Regions from separate parts of the Homo sapiens genome. Here region 2 is linked to region 1. The links come from fine-mapping of genetic effects on plasma protein levels. A gene starts in region 1. The other region holds a variant in brackets. All regions are shown on one strand. Distances are between the middles of the regions.

Region 1 (15,983 bases):
TCTGCGCAGAAGTAAAATTGCTTTGTTAAGAATCCTTTGTTTGAGTGTTCAATTTCCTTAGGATTTTGAGCATTATTCCTAACAATTTCTAAGTGTGACTAGAAAAGAAACACCAAAAGCTAAATTTAAATGAAAATGAAGAGAAAGGAGGAAGGCCGACAGAGACCCATACATCCGGATGCCTGAACAAGAACCTGGAGTCACTCCTGACCTGTTCTCAGCCTCCACATCTGAGATTACCAAGGGCTGGAGGTTCTCCTGCCCAAACATCTCCCTACCTGCTCCTCTGGCCTGCTACAGAATCCATACCTCTATCCTGGCCCCCAGGATCACAATCCTTCTTCTCAGCCTCCAAAACCGCTCTCTAAAATGCAAACACAATCCCATCTCTCCAAGCTCAAAAGCCCTTCCATTGCCCCCTCTGCCCTAGGGACAATAACACAAACCCCTAGCTGGTGGGGCGAGCACCCACATCCAAGAGCCAGGCCCTGGCCCCAGCCCCATCTCCAGGAGGTTCCCCTGTGGTCCCAGCCCAGCTCCTTCCCAGCCAAATTTTAACAGCTCATTTTTGCCTCCAGGGGTTTTGCATGTGCTATTCCTTCTGCTAGAATGCCTTTCCCTCTTCTTTTTGTTATATATATATTTTAATTTACATACAGTAAACCTGAAACTTTTCTGTATCATTCTATGAGTTTTAACACATGTATTAGATTTGCATGTCCACCACCACAGTCAGGACACAACAGTTCCATCACTCCAGAATTCTCCTTTGTGCTGCCCCTTTGTAATCACAGCCTCTCTACCCCTAACCCCTGCAACCGCTGATCTGTTTTCCATCCCTATAGTTTTGCCTTTTCTAGAATGTCATTTAAAAGGAATACCACAGTATGTAACCCAGTAGGATTGGTTTCTCCCAGTCAGCATAATGCCTTTGACATCCCTCCACGTTGTTGCATGGATCTATGGTTCTTTTCTATTGCTGAGGAGTAGTCCACCGTATGGACATACCACAGTTTATCCAGTTACACTTGAGCAACATTTGGGTTGTTTCCAGTTTGGGGCAATTATACGTAAAGCTGTTATAAACATTTGCATCAGGTTTTTTTGTAGACATATGTTTTCATTCCTCCTGCATAAACACACAGGAATGGGATTGCTGGGATATATGGTAAGTGTATGTTTAACTTTTAAAAAACTAACAAACTGCTTTCTACTGTGTTTCCCACTTTCATGTATGAGAGTTCCTGTTGCTGGCATCCTGACCAATACTTGAGGTTGTCAGGGTGTTTTGCTTCACTTTTTAACTATTCTAACAGATGTACAGTGGCTTCTCCTTTCTTCCCTTGACAGAATCCAGATCCTCCTCAGATACTCCCTGTCCTGGAGGCTCCCTCTGCCCCACTCACTCCTCAGGTTGGGTCTATCCTTTCTCTATATCTTCAGCAGAATATTTGGCCCACAGGGCTGAAGCATTTCCTTGTGCTTCCCTCTCCCCTGAACCTACCACCTACCACCTGCTCCCCTGCCTCCGCCCACACACACACACACACACACACACACACACACACACACACGTATGCACAGGCAGCCTCAATAAACTGTGTACTCCTCAGAAGCAGGGTATGTATTTTTGATTTTTCTATTTTCTGCCCTACACAATGTCTGGCTTAAAGCAGACATTTTATAAATGAATGGATGAATGAATGAATGACAAGACGGCAGGGAGACAGAGGGAGCATTAACACACATTTACACATTGAATGTGAATCCTCCATTTGTGGCCTTCTTGATATGCCACTCAGGAATTCCAAAGTCACTTGGGAGTAAGACTCAGTCCCTGCCCATGGAGACACCCGTTCCTTCAGAACTTGTGAAGGCCTAGAAATCAGAGTGAGGCCCCTATAACCGAGTACCCCCATTTTTCTAAGACAAAGAGAATAAGTTATTTTTTTAATTATTTTTTCTTCTATCTTCCTCCTTTTCCCTCAATCCTTGCTTCCTACTTAGCTCTTTAGAAATGCAGTTAGAAGCTCTACCTTCCCTTCACCAAACACTCCCTATATGAAAAGCTTATCTAACTATGTGCTTACTTAGAAGCTCCAGAGCCTGAGCTACCTTCCACCAGGAGCTTGCCTCGAGAGATAACAGTCAATTTACAACCTAAAGTATGCCCACTCCAAAACTCTTTCCCACCTGGAGAGTATCTCAAGACAACGATGACCTTACAACCTAGCTCTGCCTGTGATGGTGCTAGCTCAACTCCCTGGTAGATAAGGCACCAAAGCAAGTCACGGAGACCCCCACCTGCTTGCTCACTCCCCTGCATGCCATTCATGCCAAGTATTCATTTAAAGGACCCTGCTTTCTGCTCTAAAGCAAAGCGGTACCCTTAAAGGCAGGAGCCTGTACCTCTTCCCCTAAGCTAAGCTTTAGAATAAAGTCACTTTCTTTATACTAGACCTTGCTCTTGTTAATTGGACTCTACAAGTGGTGAGTGACTGAATCTGCATTTCAGTTATACTCCTGCTGTTTCCTCACCCTTCACATCAGCCCTCATCCTGCTTTCCTTCCACTCTTAGCCTCCTTGACCCCAGGATTCACCAGATGCTATTATAAAGCACCTTCCATCTTCCACTCAGCTGGCAGTTCTGGAGCCACAGGCTGGACTCTGGGGAATAGGACCAGATCCCAGGCCACTCCCAAGAGTATGTGTGCATGCGTGAGTGTGTGTGTGCGTGCACATGTGTGTGTATGAGTATATGTGTGATGTGTGAAAGTCAGCGTGTGTGTGTGTGAGAGAGAGAGAAAGAGAGAGAGAGAGAGATAGGAAGTGAAATCCACATAAAGAAGGGCGGCCTGGGATTTTCCCACAATCATGGCTCCCTCTCATCCTCAATCTCAGGCCAAGTGGTCCTTCACACACAGGCCTGTGCAGACACATCCAGAAAATGAGGGATCACGCCCTAAACTCCCTAGGCAGAAACACTTTAGCAGTCACATCACAAGATGATCCAAGCAAAGACAGCCCCAGGTGACTCACAGCAACCATGCCTCAAAGAAAACTGATGCACTCTGTGTCTCTACTAGTACCTTAGGTGGGGAGCAGACATTGGGCCTCCCAGACCTATTGGAAGGATGTCGGCATCTTTGAGGCCAAGCTGAAGCATGTTTCTCTCACTAGTCCCTGAAACAACTAAGGAACTCATTTCTTTGTGAGGCCTGTTCCCACCACCCCCGACATCCCTGTTTTTTGGATCAACCTCTGTTTGGTATGGTTGGGGCCAGTAGATTCTTTAAAACACTCTGCTCCCTGCCCAGCCCTGCACAAAGCCTGGGTCAGGTATGCAGCAGGAGCTGCAAGTAAGGGCTGTACCCCAGAAGAGAGAGGGGATCAAATTTCCCACAGGCTCCATGGGCTGCATTTCAAGGTTCCAATACCAGTTTAACCTCTTCTTTAGCTAAGCCTGATGACTTCTGCGACTCATTCAGTGCAGAGGGACTCAATGAGGGGACCCCAGCAGTAGATTCCAAGGACCTGCGGCTGTTTGGGGAGCTACATTCTCATCCAGTCAGCAGCATTCTGCAAGGGAGACAGACTGGACGAACATCTGCAGGCTGGGTTTTCCTGCCTGATGAGAAGAGAGACTTAAAGAAGCAAGAAAACTACTTGAGGGTAAATTTCATCTATACTAGATCCTTACTTAGAGAAGAGTCCCAGAAGCATCCCCTTGACTGGTATTGAATGAAAGGCACCTGTGACTTCCTTACCATTTTAGACCCTAACAAAAAGCAAACCTATTTTTGTGGGTCGTTTGTAAAGCCCCCAATCTTACAGCACCTTTGAGACACCAAGTATTTTCACCTCCATGACTCCATTTGCTCCTCACAATGACTCATTTTACAGATAAGGGGCTAAGGTTCAGAGCAAGGCAGCGCTTACCCAGAGCCACACGGTGACCTAGCCCAGCACAAACCCCATTCTGACTGCAAACCCCAGGCCTTTCCTCTGCCACTCCAAGCCACACCACATCCCTCAATTCTATGATGGGGCTGTAGTGACTGTGACAGGACCTACATGGAGAGTGGAGGGGAAGAACTAGGAGACCCGGGCCCTAGCCTGGCTCTAAGTGACCCTAAAGAGGCCACATCCCTTTTCCAGCTTCAGCTACTTGTCCTCTGAGTCTTAACCTCCAGGGATTTTAGCTCTTGGTTCTCCCAAGGAGGACTGGCCCATGTGGGCTCCCCTGGGACTCCATTGCCCCCACTGCTGCCTGCCTGATGACCTGCCCACAGCACAGAGTGAAGACAGGCAAGAGGAAACTCCTCCCACAGCACGCTGGGCCCTGGGAGGGTAGTTACAGTAAGAGCTTGGATAGAGAAAGAGGCCGGAGCAATTCATTCTTGTGAATTTTTCTGATTTCCACTTAGCTGGGCACTCAGGTCCTCATTTCCATGGATAATGAGAAGCTGGCCACATGCCACTGAAATCAGCCCCAATCCTGAAGTGACCTAAATGTCCAAAAATGGGGAGATGATTATCAAAATCACGGTACTGAGCATTAAATGTATGGTTATAAAAGATTTTTCTAGAGATGTAGACATGGAAACGTGCTTTGATATAAACTGAAGTAAAACAAATCAGACTGCAAAATTCCATGTGTGGTGAAATCTCAGCTCTTTAAAATAATACTCAAAGAGAATAGGAAATATGCCAAAATGATAATCATGGTTCCTGTAGAAGTTGTGTATTTTTTCTCAAAAATCAGGAGGAAAACATTTTTTAATTGGCAGTAATAGTTTCAACTTTCTCTATCAATATTTTTCTTTTTTAATTTTTAACCCAACACATATATATCTGATTCTATCAATATTTTTCATCAAGTACAGAGTCCTTGGCAAACACCAAACCTCCCACCACCACTGCAAAGAAAGAAACTGACAAGTGTTCCAATCTTCGCTTTAGAAAAATACACACCAAGCCATGGCAATGACCCCTGACTCCTCAGGATAATCAAAAATGCCCCCGCAGATACTGCAGCTCAATGCTCTTTTCTTTTTTCTTTTTTTCAAAAGGACATTTAAGGATTCTATACTTTTATTTGTATACTTCTAACCCAGAGTTTCCCATCATACGTATCTTGGATCAATAATAGGATGGCATTAGGGAAATACTGAATAAAGGATACCGTATTCAAACAAGCTGGGCAAGTTCAAATCTCAGTGTAATGAATTAAAAGACAATACTCTGTGGAAGGACCCTCAAAGAGATATAGCATGTGATATATGTGATATCATATAATGGGAAATGATATAGCATCTATCATTTCCCAAAAACTATTTTAGGACTATCTCAAGGAATGACCACTCTGTGGACATAGGGATATCTTGGGAAGTGCAGCTTTGAGCCCCAGCTTTCTCCCGTTCTCTCAGCCTTCTTGCCCTGTGGTTCTCAGCCCTGGCAGCACACTGGGCTCACTTGCAGAGCCTGAAAACATCCCTTGGTCTGGGTCTCATCTGGATTTGGGCTGGGGGATGGGGGCAGCCTGAGTCAGGGCTGAGAACCACTTCTTCCCCACACCTTTTTAGTTGTTCATGCTAAGCACAGCTCAACACTAGAATTGAGATCCAATCTCAAAATTATTCACATATCACCCATTTTTGGAGCTAAATGGCACCTTGAATAACATCTAGTCCAATCTCTCATCTAACAGAAGAGGAAACTAAGGTCCTCAAAGGATTCCTAGCCCCCTGTCTCCTCCCATGCTGCTTCTAGCCAGTGCCAGGCTGCCCTGTGGTCTCTGGACCTCAAGACCCTTCATTCAGATGGAGAAGCAAAGGACAGCCTTCAGATCTCCAAGGCCATTTCACTGCCAGAGGATGACCATCAGGCCCCTCTCTCTGCAAGTGAACCCTGAGACAGTGAAATGTTGACACAAGTCCTCTTCCTAACACAATACCAGAACCCAGAGCCAGGGACGTGAAACCGGGAAGCTGCAATGACTCACAGAACGGGAAGCTTACGCTGGCAGTGGGGCAAACACACCAATGTTCCCCTAGGCAGCCTGAGCAGAAGGCAGGTACCATCTCTCCTCCAGGCACTCTGCTTCAGCCGCAGACCACAGAGCCTCTGCTACATTTGCCTTTAAAGCCAGGAGACTCCAGCATGCTAATGCCCCTCGGAGTGGATGGCTGTGGCCTGAGTTCTGGTAACACTCTTGCTCCTAAACAGGGAATTTGTAATAGGATATCTCCACACTTTTCGTTTCACATCCTGTACCCCCAATCATTCCCCCTTTTGAAGCTTAAGATTCCACTATTTCCTTCTCTTAGCAGCTTTGAGAAAAAACCTGAAGCTGGATAGGTGTTAGGAGGGGTGAAACATACACACACCCCTAGCCTCAAAGGTACCCTTCCCTGAGCCCCCAGCTCCTTATGACCAGCCCTCCACCTCTGTTCCAGCCACCTGCCAGGCCCCCCTGCACACAAAGGAGCTGTTCTCACAGAGACCCTCCATCCTACAGCGCAGTCTCTAGACAGCCTTCTAAACCCCAGGCCCAGCAAAACTCCCCACAAAGCATCTCCAGTGGGTTCCGATCTGCCTTCTGTGAGCTTGGAAGGAAAGGGAAGAGGCGAGCAGGCACGGAAGCAGCCAGGGGAGCCCAGTGAACTGCAGGAGCCCAGTTGGGGTTGCAGGGGTTTTCTGCTGCGGGAGAAGCAGAGCAACTAACCAGCGGCCGGGCCTGAGGGACGCCCCTTTCCTGGGGTTGCATGTGTCCTTTAGCTAAGCCGCCTGGGCCACATTCTCGATGGGTTTTTCTTTTCTGCCTGTTAGTGTCTGTGAAGTTGATCAATGGAAGGGCCACGTCCACAAGATCCTGGTTTCATCGTGACATCCCAGACCCACCAGTGCTTCCACATCTGCCCAACAGTCCTCCTGTCGGGGAGGTAGAGGAAGGCGGATTGGAACCTTACTAGAGCCAATTTAACTCAATGTTAATTTAGTTATTAAATGTTAATAAACGTTAGGACATTATTTTTAATATCAATACATAGCTAAATTAGAGAAGATAGTATAAAATTCACATGAACTTTGGAGAGTATTAAAATGACTTCAAAAGCATCTCATCAGAGGCTGCCGTGGGTTCCCCAGGGAACGCTCCCCTCTCCCTGCCTTGTGGATTGCATGAAGATTGCAGAGTTGCGAGTGGGTTACGGTTAGGTCAAGGAGTGCAGATTAGTAATAAAAGCCCCCTTATTACGGTCCGCCCCACTAAGAGCGGCAGGAAAGCCGATCGCCCCCAGCTCTGGTGCAGAAATGAAAGCCGCCGCCGCCCCATGCAACTTTCGGGGAACAACTCCGGCCTCGGGAGGCCGCGCAGGCTGCGCGCGCCCTGGGCCGCTGCGCGTTGACTGCAGCCACCTGTCCTGGTGATCGCCCCACCCTCCGCTCGCGCGTTCCTTCCCGCGAGTCCTACCATGTCCCCGGCGGTGCCCCGGCCGGCTCCTCGGCGCGCTCAGCCGGCTCGCAGACTCATCCCGCCTCCCCTTGGCCGCCCCCGGCGCCGTGGCTCGCCAGGCTTCCCAGGATGCGCGGCTACTCGGCTGGGGCGGGTTTCCCGGACTGAAGGTGCACACGTTCTCTGCAGCCAAGTGGCCCTGCGCCAACTCTCGGGAGATCGCTGCACACCGGGATACTCCGCGGGTGGGGAATACACGCCGGATCTACTGAGATCTACGGGGATCTGAGGGAGCCTACCCGCGGCCGCGAGCCTCTGCGGTCTACTCGGGACTTTTGCAGAGTTTGCAAAGTCCCTGCCGCGCGTCCCGGCCCAGCTTCCCCATTCCCCTGAAAGCGCGGGAGGGGGAAGCTCCCTTCACAATAAAAGCCCTGCCGGGGGCTCGGCCAGCCGCAGTCTTCTGGTCTTCTGGAGTAGGGGCCCAGGTGCTAGGAAGGAAAGGTCTACGCCCTGACTGCCCGCCTGACGGGTGATGCACCAAGGCTGGACGGTGAGGGACGCCTCTAAGGTGTGAGGGTGCTTGGTGAGTTCGCTGCAACTCAGCAATATGGCTGAGTGTTGCCCAAACTGCCACCCTCTCCTGCCAAGCAGGACAAGTCTTTTTCTTTACTGTCGCTTGTCAGAAGGACAAGTCTTTTTTTACTGTCACTTCTTCGCCTTGTTTGGGTTCAGTCCCCAAGAGGATTTGGAAGGAAAATCCGTTGACCACTAAGCTAATTAACAATGAAGAGTTTTTGTCCTTGAGAACTAATCACTGTTAAAGTCACTGAAGTAAGTGGCTGATACCTCTCTGCTTTGGATGCACAGACAGTGCCTTTGTGTCCCCTGAGTCACCTACTGCCAACAAAGGCACAGTCAGAGCAAGACCTGAGAGTCTATCCGTTCCCCGTTGGGGAATGTCCTGGGCTTAGGGGTTCTGTAGTCCCAAAATCAGGGCTAGCCCCACTATTAACAGCTGGATGACCATCGACCAGTCCCCAGACGTCTTTATGACTTGTGTCCCCCAGTGGCCCAATGTTTGGACCCCAGGATTATTAAGAGCCTGTAGACAATGGATGGAGGCGAGGCAGAGTCAGCAGTAGGGTGCTCTGAGAGAATTTGGGGGCCAGGCTGAAAAATTAGCCTCCAGTACTGAAACTAACAGGAAGCATCATTAGCTAGATGAAGACAGGCATCTTCCCAGCAGTCTCCTGCCCCAGAATGATCTGAGGTTATCACTGATGGCAGTGCTTCTAAAGGGAAGCAAAGATCCAGAGAGTCCCCTTAAATTGTGTATGTGTGTATGGGCAGGAGGAACAGATGAAGGGAAAGTATTCGGTCCTTAACATTCCAGATGCTTTCTGTACATTATTTCATTTAATAACCACAAACGATCCTAAAAGGAAAACTTTTGCAAATTAGGAAAGTCAGGATTAGGGAGGTGAAGTAACTTTCCTGAGACCAGATCGCCAGTAAACAGTTTAGCAAATCCAAGTCTATTTGCCAGAACATGAAACAAAGAGGAAGACTTGATATGGCAGGAACAGGAGGCAGGATGTAGCACTGCAAACTGCAGCTTGTCTGTGCATATGGACTACTGAAAGGACAGAGAGTTTGAGCCCTGGTTGGGAAATGAGGGAAGAGGGTGGAGGACAGTACAAACCATTCAGGGTTTTATTTAGATGTTTAGGGAGACGCTGTGATCTTTTGAGTCTCATTTTCTGACTGTGACCCCACACAAGATATATATTAAACATATATGTATAAATGTAACTAAAAGATTGTTTTATAAAACATTACTTCATGTGATGCACTCTGACATTTTCTATTCTATTCCAATTTTATGTATTTTTAATGATGGTCTCAAATCACTAACTTAGACAGGAAGAGAGTGCCCAGTATTTCCAGGATTACTGGAAGCAGAACTGTTTTTCAAAAGAAGCAGCTCCAATGACTCATGGAACACACTTGGGAAAAGCTGCTGCAGGATCTAGCCCAGCCAAATAAAATGTCACACAAGAACATGGCTAAGCTGTAAAGAATTGTTTGTTGTTATAGCATATCCTGGTCCATCCTAATAACATGAATAAAATTACTTTTAAGAAGAATTACTTGAAAAGAGTCATAAATCAGATTTTTGTCATTTCTCTGCTCAAAACCTACCAGAGGCTTCAAATCTCCTGCAGTGTAACATGCCACATCTTACAGGGGCCTACAAGTCCTTTCACACTTTGGCCCTCATTGGTTCTCTAACATTATCTCTGCACACTCTCTCTCACTGTGCTCCAGGACACACTCACCTTCTTATTGTCCCTTGCATATTACAGGCAAGATCCCACCTCAGGACCTTTGCACTTGTTATCCCTCTCCCTAGAATGCCCCAGATATCCCCATGGTTTGCTCCCTCATCTCCTTCAGGTCTTTGCCCAAGTGTCACCTCTTTAGTGAAGCCTTCTCTGACCACTCTATTTAAGATTGCACACTCCATTCCTCTTCAGTTCCACCTTGTAATTCTTTTTTTTTTTTTTTTTTTTTTTTGAGACGGAGTCTCGCTCTGTCGCCCAGGCCGGACTGCGGACTGCAGTGGCGCAATCTCGGCTCACTGCAAGCTCCGCTTCCCGGGTTCACGCCATTCTCCTGCCTCAGCCTCCCGAGTAGCTGGGACTACAGGCGCCCGCCACCGCGCCCGGCTAATTTTTTGTATTTTTAGTAGAGACGGGGTTTCACCTTGTTAGCCAGGATGGTCTCGATCTCCTGACCTCATGATCCACCTGCCTCGGCCTCCCAAAGTGCTGGGATTACAGGCGTGAGCCACCGCGCCTGGCCGCAACTTCTTGGAAGCTATATTAAAGGGTTTTAAATTTAGATAACCAGTAAATCCCTCCCTTCTAGGAAACAACACTTCATGTTTTGTTACTTTCCAAATTTTTGTTGACTGGTGGTTGGCTGCTCCCAGGTTGTTGGCAGAGCCTCTGGTTACACTGCAGACCTTGCAAGTAGGAAATACTCAACTCACTCCACTGGGACAGGTTGGTGCTAGAGAGGAATATTTTATTATTTTCATGACAGGGTGCTCCAGGTTCATTAGGAGTGAGTCTATCTTTCACCAGTTAGCAGATTTCCAACTTGCTCTAAGGACGTTTTAGGGTTTCTTATAAACTGGTACCCCAGGCAGCGGCCCAACAGGCCCACTCTCTAATAAGATTCCATGTCTAGCTCCATTCCAGACTTACTGAATCAAAATTTCCAAGGCTTGAGTGTCTTTATATTTTTTAAGCATAGCCAGGGCTGAGAACTGCTGAACGACGCAATTCCTCTTCCTTGGCTCCCATATCCAAATGGCCTTTCTAAATGATTCTGGAATCTTTCTCCTCCTCACGGCCAGTTCTTTGGCTCAAACTTTTGTCATCACTTACAGTACTCTCAGAAACTCAACTAGCATCTCAGGCTCTACTTTTGCTCTTTCCAATCCATCCTGCACATTACTGCCAAAACGTAAACATGGGCCTGCCACTGACCTGTTCCACATAACTCTCAGGATTAAGTGCAAATTCCTCAGCAGCATAGCTTTCAGACTCCTTCAAGGTTTGACCTCCGATTACTTCTTCAAGCCTTTTACACACTCATAAACCTCCTTCAGGGCAGTTTCCTCCATCTCAAAGCCTTTTCTTGACACATTCCTATTTCCAACCTGACATACCTCCCTGCACCAGTCCTCCCCATCCTGAAGGTCCAGCACAGCATGTCCCCTGAAGTTTCTCTGTTGCAAATATTATCTCCTGTGACTCTCACTTCCTAGAAGAAAAGACGATTCTGGGCCTTCTGTCTCCATCTTCCTGGTACCAAGTAGCTACTTGATAAATGCTTCTGAATAAAGGAATGAGACAGAGAAGACTGAGGTTCAAAACTGAATCTACCACTCACAAAGCATGGGTCCTCAGCAAAGCCACTTCCTCTCCACTGGTTCAGGTTCCTCATCTGACAGATAAGAACCATCATCCCAGCCCAGCCTAACTCCCTGGATTCCTGCAACCATGTAATGTGCTCATATAAGTTACAACATCCAAGTCAGGACTTTTCTCATGGTAAACTTTCAAAAACATTTATTGAATCCAAGAATGACGAATGAGAAAAAAACTTCTTTTGCAGCAGAGAATGTTAGCATCCAGTTTACATTCTTTTTTTTCATTCACTTAACTCGTATATTTCAAGGGGAAGCAGTATACTTGGCCAAAAAATTATATATTTCACAACCTCCCTTGCAAAAACGAACAGCCAATAAGAAGCAAATGGAAGTCATTGGTGGGGCCCACAGAAGCATTTGAAGGGGGCTGAGGTAACTTACATTATTGTTCAGCAAATATTTACTCCCTATATTAGTCTGTTTTCATGCTGTTGATAAAGACATACCCAAGACTGGGCAATTTACCAAAGAAAGAGGTTTAATGGACCTAGAATTCCACATGGCCTCACAATCGTGGCAGAAGGCAAGGAAGAGCAAGTCACGTCTTACATGGATGGCAGCAGGCAAAGAGAGAGAGAGCTTGTGCAGGGAAACTCCGCCTTACAAAGCCATCAGATCTCATGAGACTTATTCACTATCATGAAAACAGCATGGGAAATATCTGTTCCCATGATTCAATTACCTCCCATAGGGTCCCTCCCACAACATGTGGGAATTCAAGATGAGATTTGGGTGGGGACACAGCCAAACCATATTATTCTGCCCTGGCCCCTCCCAAATGTCATGTCCTTACATTTCAAAACCAATCATGCCTTTTCAACAGTCCCCCCAAAGTGTTAACTCATTTCAGCATTAACTCAAAAGTCCACAGTCCAATGTCTCATCTGAGACAAAACAAGTCCCTTCTGCCTATGAGCCTGTAAAATCAAAAGCAAGTTAGTTATTTCCTAGATACAATGGGGGTACAGGAATTGGGTAAATACAGCCATTCCAAATGGGAGAAATTGGCCAAAACAAAGGGGCTACAGGCCCCATGTAAATCTGAAATCCAGCAAGGAAGTCAAATCTTAAAGTTCCAAAATTATCTCCTTGACTCCATGTCTCACATCCAGGTCATGTTGACGCAAGAGGTGGGCTCCCGTGGCCTTGGGCAGCTCCATCCCTGTGGCTTTGCAGGGTATAGCCCACCTCCTGGCCACTTTCACAGGCTGGCATTGGGTGGTCTGCAGCTTTTCCAGGTTCACAATGCAAGCTATTGGTGAATCTACCATTCTGGGATCTGGAGGATTGTGGCCCTCTTCTCACAGCTCCATTAGGCAGTGCCCTAGTAGGGGTTCTGGGTGGGGGTTCACACCCCACATTTCCCTTCCACACTGCCCTGGCAGAGATTCTCAAAGAGGGCCCCACTCCTGCAGCAAACTTCTGCCTGGACATCCAGGCATTTCCATACATCCTCTGAAATCTAGGAGGAGGTTCCTGAACACCAATTTGTGACTTCTGTGTACTTGCAGGCTCAACACCACGTAGAAGCTGCCAAGGCTTGGGGCTTGCACCCACTGATGCCACAGCCCAAGCTCTATATTGGACCCTTTCAGCCATGGCTGGAACAGCTGGGATGCAGTGCACCGAGTCCCTAGGCTGCACACAGTATGGGAACCCTGAGCCCAGCCCACAAAACCACTTTTTCCTCCTAAGCCTCTGGGCCTGTGATGGGAGGGGTTGCTGTGAAGACCTCTGACATGCCCTGGTGACATTTTCTTCATTGTCTTGGGGATTAACATTCAGCTCCTCATTGCTTGTGCAAATTTCTGCAGCTGGCTTGACTTTTCCTCAGAAAATGGGATTTTCTTTTCTCTCCCATTATCAGGCTGCAAATTTTCCAAACTTTTATGCTCTGCATCCCTTATGAAACTGCCTTTAATAGCACCCAAGTCACCTCTTGAATGCTTTGCTGCTTAGAAATTTCTTCTGCCAGATACCCTAAATCATCTCTCTCAAGTTCAAAGTTCCACATATCTCTAGGGCAGGGGCAAAATGCTGCCAGTCTCTTTGCTAAAACATAACAAAAGTTACCTTTGCTCCAGTTCCCAAGAAGTTCCTCATCTCCATCTGAGACCACCTCAGCCTGGACCTTATTGTTCATATCTCTATCAGCATTTTGGGCAAAGCCATTCAACAAATCTCTAGGAAGTTCCAAACTTTCCCACATTTTCCTATCTTCTTCTGAGCCCTCTAAACTGTTCCAACCTCTTCCTGTTACCCAGGTCCAAAGCCACTTCCACATTTTCAGGTATCTTTTCAGCAGCACCCCACACTACTGGTACCAATTTAATGTATTAGTCCATTTTCACGCTGTTGATAAAGACATACCCAAGACTGGGAAGAAAAAGAGGTTTAATTGGACTTACAGTTCCACATGCCTGGGAAGGCCTCAGAATTATGGTGGGAGGCGAAAGGCACTTCTTACATGATGTCGGCAGGAGAAAATGAGAAGGATGCAAAAGTGGAACCCCCTGATAAAACCATCAGATCTCGTGAGACTATTCACTATCAGGAGGACAGCATGGGAACGACCTGCCTTCATGATTCAATTATCTTCCACAGGGTCCCTCCCACAACATGTGGGAATTGAAGATGAGATTTGGGTGGGGACACAGCCAAACCTTTTTACTCCCCTTCCCCCTGCTGTGAGCAGAACATATATCTTTACTGCACTGTTGTTGGGATTGGCCATGGACTAACTCTGACCAATAAGACGTGAGCAAACAGAAGCATTGTGTGTGCTTGTGCAGTATTGCTTGGCTTTGCATTCTGATGATGCATCATGTGAAGAACAAGCACAAAGGTAATTTGATCTTTTGAAATTAAAGTTGTATTCTAAATAAGTTACAGTCTTTAATAAAGAAATTGAAAAAAAATCCTGTTTATCTTGGCTGCCCTTTCCTGGTGACAGTTTTTGAAATTCTGAAATCATCTGCTAAAACTCAAGTCATTTTTTGCTGCATAAGTTTTTGAAACAACCTATGCATAACCATCGAACGACTCAGGTGTAGTCAGTTCATCCTTTGTCAGGCTCCTTGTTGGCCTCTTCAAAGAGCATCAAACAGTTTTGGAGAAACAGCATAGAAATGTGTTAACTATAATCTTTTCTCCATTCTCAACCTCAATATATTTCCAAATTGAAGAAGAACATTGTTATGGACTGCAACCCCGGGGAGCCCTCACCAAGACACTAACCCTGCTGTCACCTTGATTTTGGACTTCCAGTCTCCAAAACCATGAGAAAATAAATTTCTCTTGTGTCATGGGTGGGCAATGACTAGCTGGGCCCGTGGCATGGAGGGGGAAAAGAATTCACCAAGACAGTTGTAAATAAAGAAAGGCAGATTTGTTAGACAAAGTATAAAAATACATTCCAAGAAAGCAATGAGCAAATCAACATGAGAAGAGATGACTGCAAAGAAAAAGGGCTTGCTGGAGATTTTATAGAATAGTGTTTATGCTGAAGAGGGCTTTGTGCAGTACTGATTAACACCAAGGTTGCAGTGAGCTAACTTGCAGGTGTCTGGTGATCCTTGGGCACAAGAGGGCTACATGTCCTGGACCATGAAGAAAGGCAGGCTTATAGCTTATCCGCTTCTCTTTTGCTTTCCAGTCTTCTCTTTTTAAGCCATCCAGTCTATGGCATTTTGTTAAGGCAGCCCAAGCCTACTAAAACAGACATCCTTTTGTCCCACACTTGGAAAATATGATTTTATGGCAGGCCAACATTTTAATATCTTTTCTATGGCTGACAACAATGACAGCCACGTCTAAAGAGGTGTTTTCTACTTTTATAGAGTCAAAAATCTTATTAAGTGCTTCTGCAGGTTCTGAGGAATTTTTAAGAGGCCCAAAATTTTCATTATAAAAGGCTCAATGTCAGGTAAGCAAATTATATGCCTTTTTAGCAGTATTGTATATAAGATATGCAGGTTATTTAGTAGGTAAGGTGTTTTCATTTTTTTTCTTTTTTTGGTAAGAAATTTATAGACTGAATGGAATTTGCCAAAATTTATATTTGCACTGTCTGCTGAATAGGCAGATTGCTGAGTAAAGTCCAGTTTGTATTTGAACACAATACCAATTATCTTTTGTGTTTTCTGTAGTTTTATTAAGCTCTTAATAGAAATCAAGAAAATGATTTGAAACCTCCTTTTTCAAATCAAAGTACCTAACAGCTAGGGACAATATTTTTTGTTGCTATGATTTGACACATCACTTAATGTACGGTAGAAAGTATGATCAGTGGTAAGATCTGACAGAATCAGCTCTACACGCCAGGGGGCTAACACAGCAGTTTCCCCCTCTTTTGCCCACAGGACTTTTTAGTTGCAACTTCTATAATCAGGAAATAAAACCTTACTCAGTTTCATGGAGCAATCAAAGGAACAATAAAATAATGCATGTTTGTTCATTCATGTGGTAAGCCCAAGCTAATTCTGTGGCCTCTGTGTTCCACTGAGCATTGATGTCTTTTGGGC
Region 2 (15,983 bases), 75 kb before region 1:
CTGCACTGAACAGGGCTCTGGCCTCAGGACCACAGAGCCTTCAGATGCTGCTGTGGCCACATCGCCAAGATGCACCACACCCAGGGCCTCCACCTTGGAAACTTCTGAAGTCAAAGATCTCAGGATCCCTGAAGCATCTGTCCAGCATCACGGGTAAAAATTTGCTGCTCCCATCTGTGTGGCCTCAGGCAAGCCACCTCTCTTTTTTCCCTCCCCGCTACCTCTGTCATTTGTTCCTTATCTGTAGGGTAACCATAATCAAATTGGGGTTGTTGTTAGTCATTCATGAGATAAGATGTGTAAAGCCCTTAGCATGAGTTATTACAGGTCTGTCCAGAATCCCATACTCAAACCCTGGGGGCCAGATGTGATTCAGAATTCTGAATCTCTCAGATTTAGAAAGGTAATATGGTTCACATGCCGTGCATTATGCAGTGCCCTCAACAGAGTCCGAGGTTACACCCAATAACCCAACACATCACTATTTCTGCAGTAAGTTGTATAAATATTCACACTGAGTGGGACATGAGTTTTAGCACCAAACATACAAAAAAGCTTTTGATTTTCATGCTCTGGGGAATTGCTGGTATCGCATCTAGAAGGTTGCGAACCTGTGTTACTATCTTCAGCTCCTCTAGCTTGGAAACCATCATTTTTCTTGGAGCAGCCCATTCAGCTGGGGATGCAGGAGGAGCAGGTTGGACCTGGGGTGAGGCCTGTCTGGCAGCACGGAGGCTGGCAATTGTGATTGCCTCAGCAGAGCCTCTGAGGCTCATCTGTCTGAATCGGAGCAGAACCCTCACGGCACCCCACCCACTGCAGACCCATGGCAGCTCCAACCCTACAGACTCTTCTACGCTTAGTGGGAACATACTGATTCCCAGCTGTTTGCTTCACTTGGCACATGGTTCTCATTCCAGAGGGAATGGCTGGGTGAACAGCAAGCACTGAGGCAAAGAGGCTTTCTTGAAAAGGATAAAAGTGGATGAAGTTTCCAGTTTGCAGGAAAGACACAGCTAATAGATTAGGCAGACTTTAACAAGCCAAGAGCCAAATGCATGTGAATGTGCTTGGCCAGGAGTTGCAGTTTGCGGCTCCCTGGACTAGAGAACCAGCCCTGCCACATCTTTAACAGAAAGTTCTTCTCCTGCTAATCCTTCTGAATCCAAAGGGATTAGCAGAAGAGGAACTGTCAGGGTGGCTGGGCTGGGGAGTGTGGTGGGAAAAGCGGTGGTCTTGGAAGCGAGACTTGCTAGCACAGTTCCTGATGGGTTTGAAGTCCCACCCTTCTACCTACAAGCTGGGTGACCTTAGGTACGTTATTTAACCCCTCTGTGCCTCATCTGTAAAATGGAGAGAGTAACAATCACACCTCCCCATGTTGTTGCTGTGAGGTTAAATGCTTTGATCCATGTAAACCACCTATCCTAGGGAGTCTGCCCTTCTCCCCGCCCCAGGTAGGAAGAGGTCAGTGTTGATGGGAGTGCCTGGAAATGGTGTCCTTCCCAGATAAGCTAAGGAGGGAGAGCTGGGTCCTATGCCACAGTGCTACAAGTGGCTGCTGTGCACTGGGCAGGCTGAGAGGGGCCACTCCGTATCTGCCCATGTGCCCCCACTGTCTATGCTGAGCAGACCTGTTCACATCAGCACACAAAAGGGCTTGGTGCAAGCTGGGGCCTTGCTCACTGACAGGAAGAGTCTGGCTTGGTCTTTTCAAAGAGAAACTCTACATACACACACACACACACACACACACACACACACACACACACACCACAAAACCAGGCAACCCTGCCAGGCAGATTTCCCCTCCTTTCTTAGGCGGCCACCTCTGCCCCATTTCAGTGTAAAGGAAACCTGCTCTCAGAATGTGGCTCAGTTTGCCTACCCTTCCAGCTGCCGGGCCAGTGCCTTCACCTGGATTACTAGTTAACTTTGTTTAATTCTTACAGCCAGGCAGTATGGAAATCAACAAAGACCACCCAAGGGAGAACAGACAGAGGCTTGCTACGGCAAGGGGGTCAGCACCATCACTTGCATTTGGCAGGGACTCCAAGACAGGCAGGGACTGGGAAAGCTTTATAGTGAGAAAGAAAGGGAAGGCTCCAGGTGCACCCTGATTGGAGGCTGCTGGCATGAGAGACACTGGAGATGGGCAAACTAGAGGTGGGGCATCCTAACTGATTGGTTAGGGGAGCATATTTGGCTTTCTCTGATTGATCCTGAGTTGGAAGTAGGGACAAAAATAAGGAAGCTGGCAGTCACTGACTAGGTCTTCACCCTACTGAGCAGATGCTACAGACATTGTGGTTGGTTCTCTGAGCTGGTTGCTACAGAGGTGGTGGATAGAGTTTTATTATTATATGTAGTTTGGGCATTGTCCACTTGCATGTCAGTCTCTCGGTGGTGAGACAGGATTAGATCTGTTTTATTTCAAAGCGGCTGGTTAAGTCACAAAGTAGAATGAGCCTCATCCTAATGTGAGAGCTCCACATTATGTTTTGCAATGAAATGTTTCTTTGTATTCCTTTCTTCTTGCCATTTTCTAGGATGACAAGTGTCTCACTCCCACCTCTGGCTGAGTGTAGGTCTACCAGGCAGAAGGCAAAGCAGAGACTGTTAAACAGAAACTGGCTGAGGCCTAGAGGAACAGCATCACTTGATAAGGGTATCCTTGGAAAGAACTGAGAACACAGGAAGAAGAGAGGAGAAAAGACAAAAAGTCAAAGTCAAATAAACATTGGTGACCTTAAGAGAAATGCCTGAAATCTCTAAATCCAAACTCCCTTTTCCAAGGGCCTGAGTCTTGCCCAGGACACTTCTACATTTCCACGCCCACTGAATATGCCAGGCATGTTGGTTTATTGCAGGCCCCTGTTACCTATCTCCTACATTAGGTTGTAAAAGATCTAGCAAAAGGCACAGGGCCCAGATGGTTTTATGGGAGAGTGCTATAAAACTTTTGAGGAATAAATGGTTCTTATTTAAACTCTTACAAAGCATTAAAAAGATAAAATAAAATTCTGAATTTATTTTATGAGGTATGTTTAAATTTAATAGTAAGACAGCCATGGAGTGCCCAAAAAGGAAAACCTTATGAATGTATATGCAAAGATTCTAAGTAAAATATTGGCAAGTTAAATTCTGCAGTTCCCAAAATACTAACATACCTCAGCCTAATAGGTTTTTTCTGAGAATGTAAAGATTATTCAGCATTAGAAAATAAAGGAGAAAAACTATATGCTCAATAGATATTGAAAAGAGCATTTAATAAAATTCAATCCCCATTCTTGATTTTTGAAAAATGGTTTTAGTAAGCTAAGAATAAAAAGAAACTTCCTTAACTTAATGAAAGATATTTATCAGAAATGATTTCTTTAAACCTGACAAAACATAATAGAAACCACAGAGGTGTTCCCATTAAAGTCCAGAATAAGATGTGGATGCCTACTATTGTTGCTATTATTACTCAATTTTCCTCCAGAAAGCTCCCAACCTAAGTAATAAGACAATAGAAATAAATGAGAGGAGAACACACACACACTTATGAAATATAAATGTAAAATTATCATTATTTGAAAATATTATTTTCTACTTAAAAACTATAAGATATGCACCTAAAATTCTATCTAGAAAAATCTAATCAAGAAAAAGAACTCATTCTCAATAGGAGTAGAAATTGCAAACTATCTTTAAAATGAGCTTATTTGCTGAAGAAAACATTAAAATGTTACTAGAGGCCGGGTTCGGTGGCTCATGCCTGTAATCCCAGCACTTTGGAGGCTGGGATGGGCAGATGCTTTGAGCTCAAGAATTCAAGACCAGCCTGGGCAATATGGCAAAATCCCATCTCTACAAAACAATACAAAAATTAGCTGGTCGCGGTGGTGTGCACTTGCCGTCCCAGCTACTCAGGAGGCTGAGGTGAGAGGATCACTTGAGCCCAGGAGGTTGAGGCTGCAGTGAGCTGAGATCTTGCCACTGTACTCCAGCCTGGGTGACAGAGTGAGACCCTGTCTCAATAAACAAAAAAATGTTGCTAGAGATTATCAAAGAATAGGTGGATTGATAAACCTGAATGAGAGCACTCAATATTCAAATAAGTCAGATTCCCACTAATTATAAATTCTATATAATCACAATCAAAACACCAATGGGATTTTGAGGATAAAAGGAGAGGGGTGGCATGCTTCATAGACTGACATTATCACATGAAAGACAAATGCACAAAAATAGCAAAGGAAAAAACTAAAGTAGAATAAAAATATGGGAACTCAGCCTACCAGACAGCAAAAAAGAATAAAGTAACTTTAATTAAAACACTGTCATACTAATGCAGGAACTGAAAAATAATATCAGAACAGAGTTCACAAATGGACCTCTGTGCATGTGGGAACCTAATATCTGATAAAAGTATACTTTCACAGCAGTAAAGAAAGAATGGACTATGAAATAATGTTACAGCAACTAACTATCCATTTGAAGGGAAATGAAACTTGTTAGATCCCTAACTCACACCATTCTCTGCTTAAATCCATATAAAATATAGGTTTTATATATTAATTTAGAGGGAATATATATGAAATATATGAAAATATATAAGAAATACTATATAATATATAAGAAATACTGTATAATACTAGAATAAAACACAGATTATTTCAATAATCTTGAAGTGGTGACAGCCTTTCTAAGAAGGCATGAAACTCAAAAGACTTAAAGGGAAGGATAAACAAATTTGACTACGTGGAAATTAACATTTTACACTTGGCAAAAGACTATAAACAAAGTTAAGAGACAAATTAGAGGCTGGAAGAAAACATTTATACCAAGTCAGCAGAGAAAAGATTGATCACACTTATTAGAGTCAAAGATTTCCAACAAATTAACAAGCAAAGGGCAAACATCTTAAAACAAAAAGACAATGCAGAAAAGAAAATACAAATGTCTGGCAAATAAGTGGAAAGATGACTTCATTCATGATTAAGGAAATGCAGCTTTTAAAATCGGTTTTCCTCCTAAATAGGCCAAAAAAAACCCAAAAGTCTGAGAATGCCAAGTGTTGGTGAAGGTGTAGAAAAATAATCAGTCTCCTACCCTCTTGGGAGAAATGTAAATTGACACCACCATTTCAGAGAGCAATTTGGCAGTTTCTCTCAGAATACTGAATGCCCATACCCTTTGCCCCAGAAATCCCGTACGGAAATCTACCTCGCAGAAATACTTGCACGCCATGCAATCATGTTCATGGCGGCAATGTCTGTAATTGATGAAAAATTGGAGCTACTTAAATGTTCATGATTATGGGACCAGCTAAAGAAAATATGACACATCCCTGCCTTGGAATTTCATGCAGTCACCAATAAAGATTGGGTCAATTCAGATGGCTGATACAGAATATAGTTAATAAAGTAAAAATATAGTGAGTTGACAAAGCATGACCACACTTTCATTTTTTAATTTGCATGTAGTGTGACCATGAATAACACACACACACATACACACCGCTAGGGAGTTTGTGGGACTTATGCTTTTTGTCATATGCTTCTATTTTTTATGGACTTGTTTTTACTGAGCATGTATTACTTTTAGACTTTTATAATTTTTTAAACCAAAAACATAACTGAGTAATAATTGAAAATTTAAAGTCTATAAAGACAAACGCATTATGTTTCATTTCTTAAGCCTGAGTCTACTTTCAGCCAGAGCAACTCCAGGCTGCAAGTGCAGTTCTATGAAGATTGTACCTTTATTAGGTTGGTCTCAGGTATTGCATGCAGGCGGGCACACATGCCACCCACACCTACACACCTCTACACACACACAAAGTTCTCCCACTCTGCATATGCACGTGCATCACACATTTTTACAGTTTCTTGAGCAGCTCACAGAACATTTTCGAATGTATTTGTTGGTGCAAGGGAATAAATAGCCAGAGCCGAGAAGGCAGAAAGGGACGCTTTGAGATTGAAAACCCCATACTACCTCCACCATCCCAGGCAGGTGAAATATCCCGTGACATCCTTGTGCCCCTCTGGCTTCTGGCTTTTCCCATTTGTCCTCAAGATGAGTGAGCCCAAGAAAATGTGGCCATCAGGATGGATGCTCATTGACTCAGGGCTGTGTGCGGCTTATGGGTCCTCGTCCCTGAAGAGTGTGAGGTTGTGCTTTTGGATGTGTCCCAGCAGCACCTGTCCTCGCTGCTCCAGGGTCTGGAGGACCTGCTTCAGCCCCTGGGCTCCGCCTTGGCTTTCCCAGAACACTGGGTCCATCTGCAGCGACTTCAGCAGCATGTTCTGTAGACACCCTGATGCGAGAACCTTCACGGCAGACTCAGGAAACCTGGAGCAAAGGCCCCAGAGCCCCGTAACAGAAAGAAAAAGCAACAGTAATCTCAGAGAATTTCAGTAACAGGTGATGCCAGATGGCCAGAGCTTGCATAGCTGAGGAACTCTGGTAAAGTCACCTGGCAAACTCCCCAGACCTGCACCTGCTATCTCACTAACAGAGGACCCTTTGCCTGGCTTTGCTGTGAAGGCAGGGGACAGACCTTTCAGATGGGTCCCATCCTACAGAGAAGCCAGGTGAATAAATTCCGCTATCCCAGGCTCCACTTGGCAAATGCAGGGCCAGAAAGAATCCTGGGAAGGCAGAGCTGCCTGCCAAGAGTGAGCTGGGAGGGGTAGACTCTCTGGCCTAGCTCTCTCACCCAGAACAAGGGAAGGACTAGCCTTCCCACACCCCAGCAATACAGCTAGTATTCTGCAGGCACGAGGCCCTCTGGATATTGGGGTAGGCCCTGCCAACTGTATCCCCTCTCAGCTTTCCCAGGGCTCCCCACCACCGCCTAAAGTTCTGATCCAATAACTTCTGTCTGATGGACTGTGGGCTTCTCAGGGCCACAGTTGAAGGTCCCAAGGTTTGCAGCAAGGCCATCAGGTCTCAGTCCCATGAACTTCCACCCAACCCTTTTGACCCTCACCCATCTATGCCCTCCAGCAGCCGAAAGTTCAGCTTGTCCTCAGGGTGCTGAAGGTTGCCAGCGTTATCGATGTAGACCAGGTGAGATGGATCGCTGCTCCGGACCTCAGGGAAGAGGGTGGACAGAGACAGAGGTGGGTAAGGGTGCAGCTACGGCTGGCACCTATGGACTTGGTCAAGATTAAGGGGCTGACAGCCCTGAGCTGTCAGTCCCACAGTCCATCCTAACAAACAGTCCTCACCGCTGAGTGCTTACTCTATGCTGGGCACTGTGCTAAGTGCTTCCAGACATCCTGTCAATTAATTCTCCCAGTAACCTTAGGAAGCAGGCACTAGTGTTAGCCCTATTTTACAGAAATGGTGGCACCTTCTTTAAGTTAAGCAATTTGCACAAAATCACACAGCTAGTAAGTAGCTGGGCTGTTTCAAACCCGGACCCATGGGGCTAAGCCATAGCACCATCTGCTAAATCGCAAGGCCAAAGGACTGATCCTATTTTGGTGGCTGAAGGGGTGAGGAGCAAGGGTGGGAATCAGCAGTTGCCAAGGTAGCCTGCTCCTCGGGGCCACCGGCTGTGAGGGGCATCGCACATGTGCTGCTCACATGTGTACACACACTCAGTCACCCCTTTGTGCCACCTGTGCCTGTGCACCTGGGCATCCCCCTGAGCATCACTGAGATCACAGACATATCCTTTATCCTCAAAAAGCACTGACCATAATCTGATTCTACAGAAGAGTTTAGCAGCTCCTAAACCTTTTCAAAACCAAAATCAGCACCAGAAAATTCTTTAGTACCTTAAAGAATATGGTGTGGTTGCGAATGGGAGGCCATCTCTTCTGGTCCCCACTCCCATGCATGCACTCCTTTCCCAAATAGCCTCCAAAAGTCCATGGGCATTTCCCACAATCCTCTCCAGTGGCCTAGGCTTAAGCTATGAACTTCTGTTTCCAGGACTCCAGCTTCCCTTCTCTCTGCCTCTTCTCCTTTCTCACCCCACTCCACATGTCAGGATCACCTTTTGCTCAAAGCCAGGTGACTCTTCCCTCTGGAAACTGCTGTCCTAAAAGATCTGTGAAATGCCTGCTCACCAGGGGTAAACAATGGCTATTAAAACTTTGTCTCTCCCATGGATATTTACCTTTGACCAGGGAAAAGGAGAGATGGCTCTGGGGGTAGGGGAGGAGAATTCCCAGCACCACCACTAAGCAATCCTGGGCTTCGGGTGATGCGGCCTCCCTGAAGCCCATCCCTGGACACCATGCTGACAGCTACCCTCTAAGAGCAAAGGGAGGCTGTGAGGACACTATGCCTCACTGCAGGAGAAGATAGAGAAGCCCTTCCCCGGGGGAAGCACCTTGCTTCTTATGCAGAAGAAGTGGCTATTCTGCCCTCTCCAATGGCCTCGGCACATTGCTTCCCACCCTGGACTCTAGTTTTGACAGGAGCAGCACCAGCCTGTGAGCCACTGCAGTCTTGGGTTCATGCCCTAATGCTGCTAGCGTATGGCCTTGAAGATTCCTTTCCCTCCAGACTGCAATTCCTCATTTACTGGCACAACGAGGATGTTGACTAGACACACCATTCTCAAACTCTACTTCCAGGAGCCCTAGTTGTTCCCTGGAGTCTCTTAGGGGCAGTGGAGACAGTGAAAACAAGGCTCCAGCCCCCACCCCACACCCCTCCTCAGGCACATTCTTAAAGCTCCATTTTGTCAGCTTTATATATTGCGGACTCCTGGAAATATTCAAACAACTGGTTCTGCTGCTGAAAAGAACAAGACTGGGAAACCCCAGCATCAACTGATCTCTGAAACTTGTTAACAGCATCTTCTGAAGGACACAGAAAGACCTGGGTCTGGGGTGACAAGGGGATGGTGTGGAGGAGACGTACCAGGATGTGGACCAGCCGCAGCT[C/T]GGCTGGGTTCTGGCATTTCTCTCGGAGCCTCTCTTCCACACAGGGGTCTGAGGGCTCAGGCTCGAAGCCACAGCAGTAGCGATCCAAGCGGTCGTGGACCTGTGGAGACACCCAGCCTTCGGTGGGGTGCGGCAGGGGGCCTGCCTCCACCAGGCATAGCATGGAGGCCACCTGACCTGCTGTTTCCTACATGACCCTGGGGCCACAGCAGGGGTGACCCTCACTGGTTCTCTGTGCTGGTCATTACTAAATGGGGCTTCCGCTTTCCTCCTCTGGCCAGATCACTCTGCGCACCAGGAGCTGTTTGCTCATGCCTCAGGCCAGTGTGGATTTTCACCCAGTGCCCACAGCTTAACCTACACTGTTGCTCTTTAGCTCTAGCCTGGCACCTCTGAGGCTCTGAATGCTGACCGTCTGCCTGTCTACCTAGGGAGATTCCACATCACTCTATTTTTTCTTTAAGCAGCAAATGCTACATCAGGGATTCCTCCTTTCTTTAGAGGTGCAAGTCCTTCAATGATCATCTCAACAGCTCCAACTGGACAGCTCTTTCACCCTGCAGCAGGCCTGAATCAAGCCAGGGAAAGAGGAGGACATCCTCAATGTGGTGTGCAGTCAGTTCTGAGGAGCTTTGCCACCCTTCCCCTGAATAGACACATACAGATGACACCCACAGCATTTTAGAGTGGATCAGAGGATTCCTAGAATCACACTTCCCACTCACTTGCTTCCGGGATGCTTTCTTCAGAAGGAAAGGTGCAGCCTGAAAGTCAGCAATAGGAAGAATCGTGGGTCTACCCCAGCCCTGACCTACATGAGGATAGTATCTGCTGTAAGTATCTAGGACAAAGAGGTTGAGGATGGAGAGGCATACAAGCAAGAAGTGGTAGAGTCCTCTGAGGATGGTTAGGGGAGGGCTTGCTGTGGGGAGAAAGACAGGAAAGGGAGAATAGTCGAAGTGAGGAGTTGGTTTGGAGAAGGTTTGGGAGATGCTAGGAAGTGGATGAAAGATGAAGCGAGGGCGGCTGAGCAGTAGGGAATCACCATCACACACAGGATGGGCAAGCCGGGGAAAACTCATTCTATTTTCCTTTTATGAAGGAAACTTGGTTTGATGCAATACCTCAATGAATGCCTAGGGTAGAAGGTGAAATCCCTGGAGGTCTGGGTGAGGGAGGACTTGCATTGCATGGGACAAGAAGAAAAGTTAGTTTCTTGCTGTGGAAGGAGGAGGACAGAGGAATAGAGAAGGTGAAGGGAAGCAGGGAGCAGCAGGAGGCTGGGGCTGAGATGTGCCCTTCCACAAGTTCTCTGTCCTTCAGTGAAGCTGCCGCCCTTGTGAAATGTTTGGTGGATGCTGAGCTTTGAGTTCAGGTTTGGTGTGGGGCAAGTCAAGGTAGTGCTCACGGCACATGAAACAGAAAGAGTCCATCTACTCCTTGGGATTTGTCCAAATCCTAGGAAGGGCTCCAGACCCCACAGGTTATGGGACTAGGGGTTTTAGTCGTTTTCTTAAATCTCCCAGATGGTGGTGAAAGTCAGTGGGGAGGCCTTGAGGATCTCTGGGATCTACCAGTCAGGACAATGACTGGTAGGTATCTAACTCTCAGGCTGCAAAATGTACTAAGTTCCTAAAAGAGCCTGGTGTGGGGAAGACCTAGATTGGACACTCTGATCCCATCTTTGCAGAAGGGCTAGTCTGAATTAGAAAGCCTGGGAACAACACTGGAGAGGAAGACATCAGCCTGGGAACCTGGAAACTCAGTATGAAGGGAGCAGAGCAGACCTCATTGCAAGAAAATTGTCATTATCTGACGTGTCTGGTGATTCCCTGGTAAACTCCACTAAAAGGCATGGTTTTTTGGTTGCCCGGTACTAAAAGCCTTCTCCTGGAAGGGTAGAGGACATTTGTTGAGAACATTTACTGGCAAATGTTTCAACACCATGGCTGTCTGAGACAATGGATAACAATTGGGACAAACAATAGATTAACCAAAAAGCTTTAAAAGGAAAAGATAAGAAATGAAATGTCCAAGGGGCTGTGAAAAGCTCCAATATGTTCCTGGAAATCTAGAAAGCCACATGCACATGTGTAGGACTGTGCACATGTTCAGGAAAAAACTGAAAATACCCTAAGCTCTCACCTCTGGTTGACCTTGAGACTATACAAGCACAAATGAAGGCAAAAGCAGATTTGTCAATTGCATACATACGTGTTGGAGATGCCTCAACACACACACAGAGTCCTTTGGCAAAGACTAGGAGACTTACTGGCTCCGGAAATTCATGAAAATCTCCTGCTCAATCATCAGCTGATCACTGAACTAACTGAGCAGAAATTTCAGTGGCCATATACAATAAAGAATACAGATGACTATAGAATTTGTTCATAAAAATAAAACAAGCAAATAAAGAAAACCACTACAAACAAAAACAACTACAACAAACAGCAATGACAAAAATCCTGGGGAAAAGAAGAATCTGATTTTCAAAGTGGCCACCTTATATTATTTAAATACTCAGTTTTCAACAAAAAAATATGAGACAGTCAAAGAAACAAAGTATGGCCAATATGCATGAAAAAAGTCAATCAATCAAAATTTTTCCTGAGGAAGCCCAGACATTAGATAAAAAAATTTAAATTAGCTATTTTACATATGTTCAAAGAACTAAAGGAAATCAGGCCTAGAGAAGTAAAGTATGAGAACGATACCTCACCATAAAGACTACATGAATAATGAGATAGAAATTATAAAGAGAAACCAAATATAAATTATGGAGTTGAAAAGTACAACAACTTTTAAAAATTCACTGAGAGGATCGAACAGCAGTTATGAGCAGGCAGAAGAACGAATCAGAAAACCTGAAGATAGGTCCACTGAGATTATCAAGTATGAGGAATAAGAAGAAAAAAATGAAGAAAAATAAACAGTGCCTCAGAGACCCATGTAACACCATCAAGTGTACCAACATATATATAAGAGGAGTTTTAAAAGGAAGGGAGGATGATGTGAAAATAATATTAGAAGAATTAATGTCCAAAACCTCCCCAAATTTGGTGAAAAGCATTGATCTACACGTCCAAGAGGTCCAGTGAACTCCATTAATATAAACTGAAAGAGACCTACACCTAGAATAAAACTGTCAAAAGCCAGAGAGAGAATCTTAAAAGCAGCAAGACAGAAGTCACTCATCACATAAAAAGGATTCTTTCAAAGAGTAATTTGATATCAAATTTATCAAAAACCATGGAGGCCAAAAGGCAGAGGAATAACATTCAAAGTGTTGAAATTAAATTAAAAAAAAGAGAGCCTGTCAACCAAGAATTTTATATACAGCAAAACTATCCTTCAAAAATTAAGGAGAAATGAAGACATTAACAGAACAACAAAAACAGAGTTTATTGTCAGCAGGCTTCTTCTACAAGAAATACTAAAAGGAGGACTTCAGGTTGAATGAAAGGACACTAAGTAGTAACTTGAATTAATGTCAAGAACTAAAAAGCTCTGTTCAAGGTAACTACATAGATAAACATAAAAGACAGTATAAATGTATTTTTTTTTGTTCTGGACTTCTTTTTTTCCCCTCTGATTTAAAAAAAAAAACTGCTGAAAGCAATAATTATAATCTATACTGATGGGCAGAAAATGTATAAAGATGTAATTTGTGACAAGAATAGCATAAAAGTGGGGGGGGAGAGATTTATATAGAAAGAAAGTCTTTTTACACTATTGAAATTAAATTGCTGGTAATCTGACCTAGATTGTTATAAATCAAGATGTTAATGGTAATCCCAGTGCAACTACCAAGAAAATAACTACAGTTCTAGTCACCAACTAATCTCACAAAACCAGATGTTAAGAAATGAGACAGCATTCAATAGTCCCAAGTACTGTCCCCAAACATTATTTTCTGTTTTATACAGTTAAACATGGAGAAAGCACATCTCAGGTCTAGATAGGCTGAGGGCAGTAGACCAAATGGATTAAATATATCCACTGATTCTAGTAAAAAAAACAAGTTTAGCCCAGAGGCCAATGCACAAAGCCCAGAAGATTGGTCCAGCTTGGCAAAGAACCACAGCCCTGTTCATGCGATAAGCCAATTAGCAAGACTTCCTGAGGAGTACCCTCTTTACTGCTTTGGCCTCCTGAACTTTGGGTAACCAATATTCAATTTTTCTTCTTTCCTCTAATACCCTATTATAAAAAATTTCAAACAGCAAATTTGAAATAATTTTATGGTGAATATCCACATACCCATTACTAAGATTCTACCATGAATATTTTATTATGCTTACTTTATGACATATCTATTGATACATCTCTATATCTATCCATTAAGTCATCTTATCTCTTATTTTTTATGCATTTCAAAGTAAGTTGCAGACATTAGAAATTTCCCTCTAAACACATTGGCATGCACACCACTCATTAGAGTTCCTGGTTTTCCTGTAAGAGAATCAATCTTCCCTGCTAGATACAGTCTGGTGGCATCAACAATCCAAGTACCCTGCACACCCAGCCATGAAGTGAGGATGGGGTCCAAGCTCCCCTAACCATATACCCTCCATCCTTCCCCTGACTCTTCAGGCTTCCCAGGCCTTTTTCTTCCATTCCTTGAAGCCCTTAATGTCTTACCAAATGTAGATTCTTTTCTTGCTTATGTTAACCAGAGTTAGTCTCTGTTGCTTGGAATCAAACTCCCTCCAAGTGATGCGCCCCCTGAATTTTCCTTCATCCAGGTTAAACACACTTGGGTTCTGAAACTATGGTAGATGCTTTTGATGCTCTCCATCCATGAACCTAGGGCTCACCTACAGAAGGTCCCAACCATACAGTCCCCATATGTAGAGGTACTCTTGCCCATAACAGGCTTGACCCACCCATGCAGCAGGCAAATGTGCTGGAAAATAAATGCCTCCAGGAGCAAGCTTCAAACAATGACTTATGGCAGTTAGTGTACAAGTATCATAGCCCCTCACCTCCCAGGGGAATGATACCCCACAGCAGTGTTCTACACAGTCTGTCAAGGGCCCTCATCTGGGTTCAGCCTCACTTGCCCATGGTGGCAGCCTGCTCTTTACTGTACCCTTCATTAGCTTTTCTTCCTTCCCTGCTTCACTTCCCCATTTGCTCACCAGGTTTCCTAGGACCACCTCCCAGATAAATTGCTCTATTCAAATTCTAGTCTCAGAGTCCCTTTTTGGGGAACTCAAACCTAGATAGAAACCCCTCATGGTCTCTATTGCTGTCACATGTCCAGGCTCTTGTTGGTCAATATTCTTATCATACTTTAGTACCTAGCACTGGACACAACAGCTGAGAATCAAGTTACGGAGTAGCACAGAAACATCGCCTCCCTGATTCCAGATGCTAAGACTGAATTAGCATCTTCACCAATCTTATCATATTGTTGACACCTATTGTGCATGTCTAAAACTAGCAAGTCTCTGTCTCATATGTGTCCATTCAGCCAGGGCTTCATTAACCTGCCTTTATACCACTGACTCACAGGCCCTCAGTAGACTTTGCATTTAACACTATTCCATTTCCTCCTTTAATCTTTCATTGCAACCCATTGAATCTTTTTTGGATGGTTTTGCTGTCACATTCATTTGCCTTTCCTTCCCCTGCCAATTTTAGGTTATGTGCCGCCAGACCAGTAAGCTACTATACCAATGGGAGTGTTTTCAGCCACAAGTAACAGAAAAACCTGACTCCAAATGGCTTAAACCATAAGGAAGATTGAGATTATCTACAGAAGGAAGTCTTGAGGAAGGGCAGGTTGGGTGGATTTAGCAGCTCCATATTATCATGATAAGGACTTGGGTTGCTTTCTGCCCTCCACGTTACCACCCACAATGTTAACAGCATCCCAGTGTTGTCTTAGGATGCCTGCAGGTAGTTGCTGTGGGAATATGTTTCCTTGTTCATGTCCAGCAGGAAAGAGAGAAGAAGAGTATGAGAGAAGGGGAGAGAGAGAAGGAACCTCTCCCCTCAACAACCGTGGAATAGAAGGTCTTCCCTTCAGCCAAATTAAGAGGCCAATAGCAATCAGTGGACCAACAGCAATCAGTGGAAGACGTTAATGCACTGATCCTTGAACCCATTGCCTCTGAATCCAGGAATAGGTGGAAGGTGAATCAAATCAGGGCTCTGTGAGGAACGACTACAGAGAGAATGGCTGGGTCCCCTACAGCCCAGATGTCCTCATTCAGGCTACTAATAAAAATGTTGGCTAGGACAGGGTTAGAGAGTTCATTTTAAATCACTAAAGCTAGTATCATCCCACCTGTATTAGTCCATTCTCATGCTGATGCAAGAGATGGGCTCCCACAGTCTTGGGCAGCTCTGGCCCTGTAGCTTTGCAGGATAGAGACCCCCTCCTGACTGCTCTCACCGGCTAGCATTGAGTGTCTGCAGCTTTTCCAGGTGCACAGTGCAAGCTGTCAGTGTGTCTACCATTCTGGGGTCTGGAGGATGATGGCCCTCTTCTCACAGCTCCATCAGGCAGCCCCACTGGGAACTCTGTGTGGGGGCTCTGACTCCACATTTCCCTTCCACATTGCCCTAGCAAAGGTTCTCCATGAGGGTTCCACCCCTTCAGCAGACTTCTGCCTGGACATCCAGGTGTTTCCATACATCCTCTGAAATACAGGTGAAGGTTTCCAAAGCTCAATTCTTGTCTTCTGTGCAGCCACAGGTGCAACACCACGTGGAGGCCTAGAAGGTTTGGGGCTTGTACCCTCTGAAGCAATGGCTTGAGCTGTACTTTGGCCCCTTTTTGGTGCAGCTGGGATGGAGGGCACCAAGTCCTAAGACTGCACAAAGCAGCAAGATCCTGGGCCCTGCCCACACAACCATTTCCTCCTCCCAGGCCTTTGGACCTGTGATGAGATGGTTGCCATGAAGACCTCTGACATGCCCTGGAAACATTTTCTCCATTGTCTTGGCATTGACATTTGGCTCCTCATTACTTAAGCAAATTTCTGCAGCCAGCTTGAATTTCCCTCCAGAAAATGGGTTTTTCATTTCTACCACATCATCAGGATGCAAATTTTCCAAACTTTTATGCTCTGATTC

Direction of the effects. Alleles are on the strand shown, and positions count from the first base shown. The strength of an association depends on the size of the effect and on how common the allele is.
As copies of C replace T in region 2, the plasma level of the protein whose gene starts at base 7,810 in region 1 goes up (weak association).

Evidence for each region. A credible set is the group of variants that fine-mapping cannot tell apart. PIP is the posterior inclusion probability: the model's chance that the variant is causal. Protein levels are from antibody-based Olink assays in UK Biobank. Linkage for the fine-mapping came from a reference panel and not from the study's own genotypes, which makes the PIPs less certain.
Region 2: its variant is the best candidate, but not a certain one, in a credible set for the plasma level of the GASK1A protein (UK Biobank, PIP 0.65). The variant lies in the coding sequence of GASK1A. If it changes the protein, the assay may bind it differently, which can mimic a change of level.

Annotation. Positions count from the first base shown.
Region 1 is chr3:42,971,138-42,987,120 of GRCh38, reverse strand. GASK1A (golgi associated kinase 1A) reads right to left here and starts at 7,810. Exons shown (of 5, transcript NM_001129908.3): 1 at 7,476-7,810. The coding sequence starts at 7,478. RefSeq lists enhancers at 2,286-2,786, 2,787-3,287.
Region 2 is chr3:43,046,535-43,062,517 of GRCh38, reverse strand. It overlaps GASK1A (golgi associated kinase 1A), which reads right to left. Exons shown (of 5, transcript NM_001129908.3): 3 at 8,875-8,997; 4 at 6,983-7,086; 5 at 4,803-6,342. The coding sequence ends at 6,132. Among named protein-coding and RNA genes, the nearest start is that of POMGNT2-AS1, 32 kb to the left of the region's middle. The variant C/T (reference allele first, on the strand shown) is at 8,898.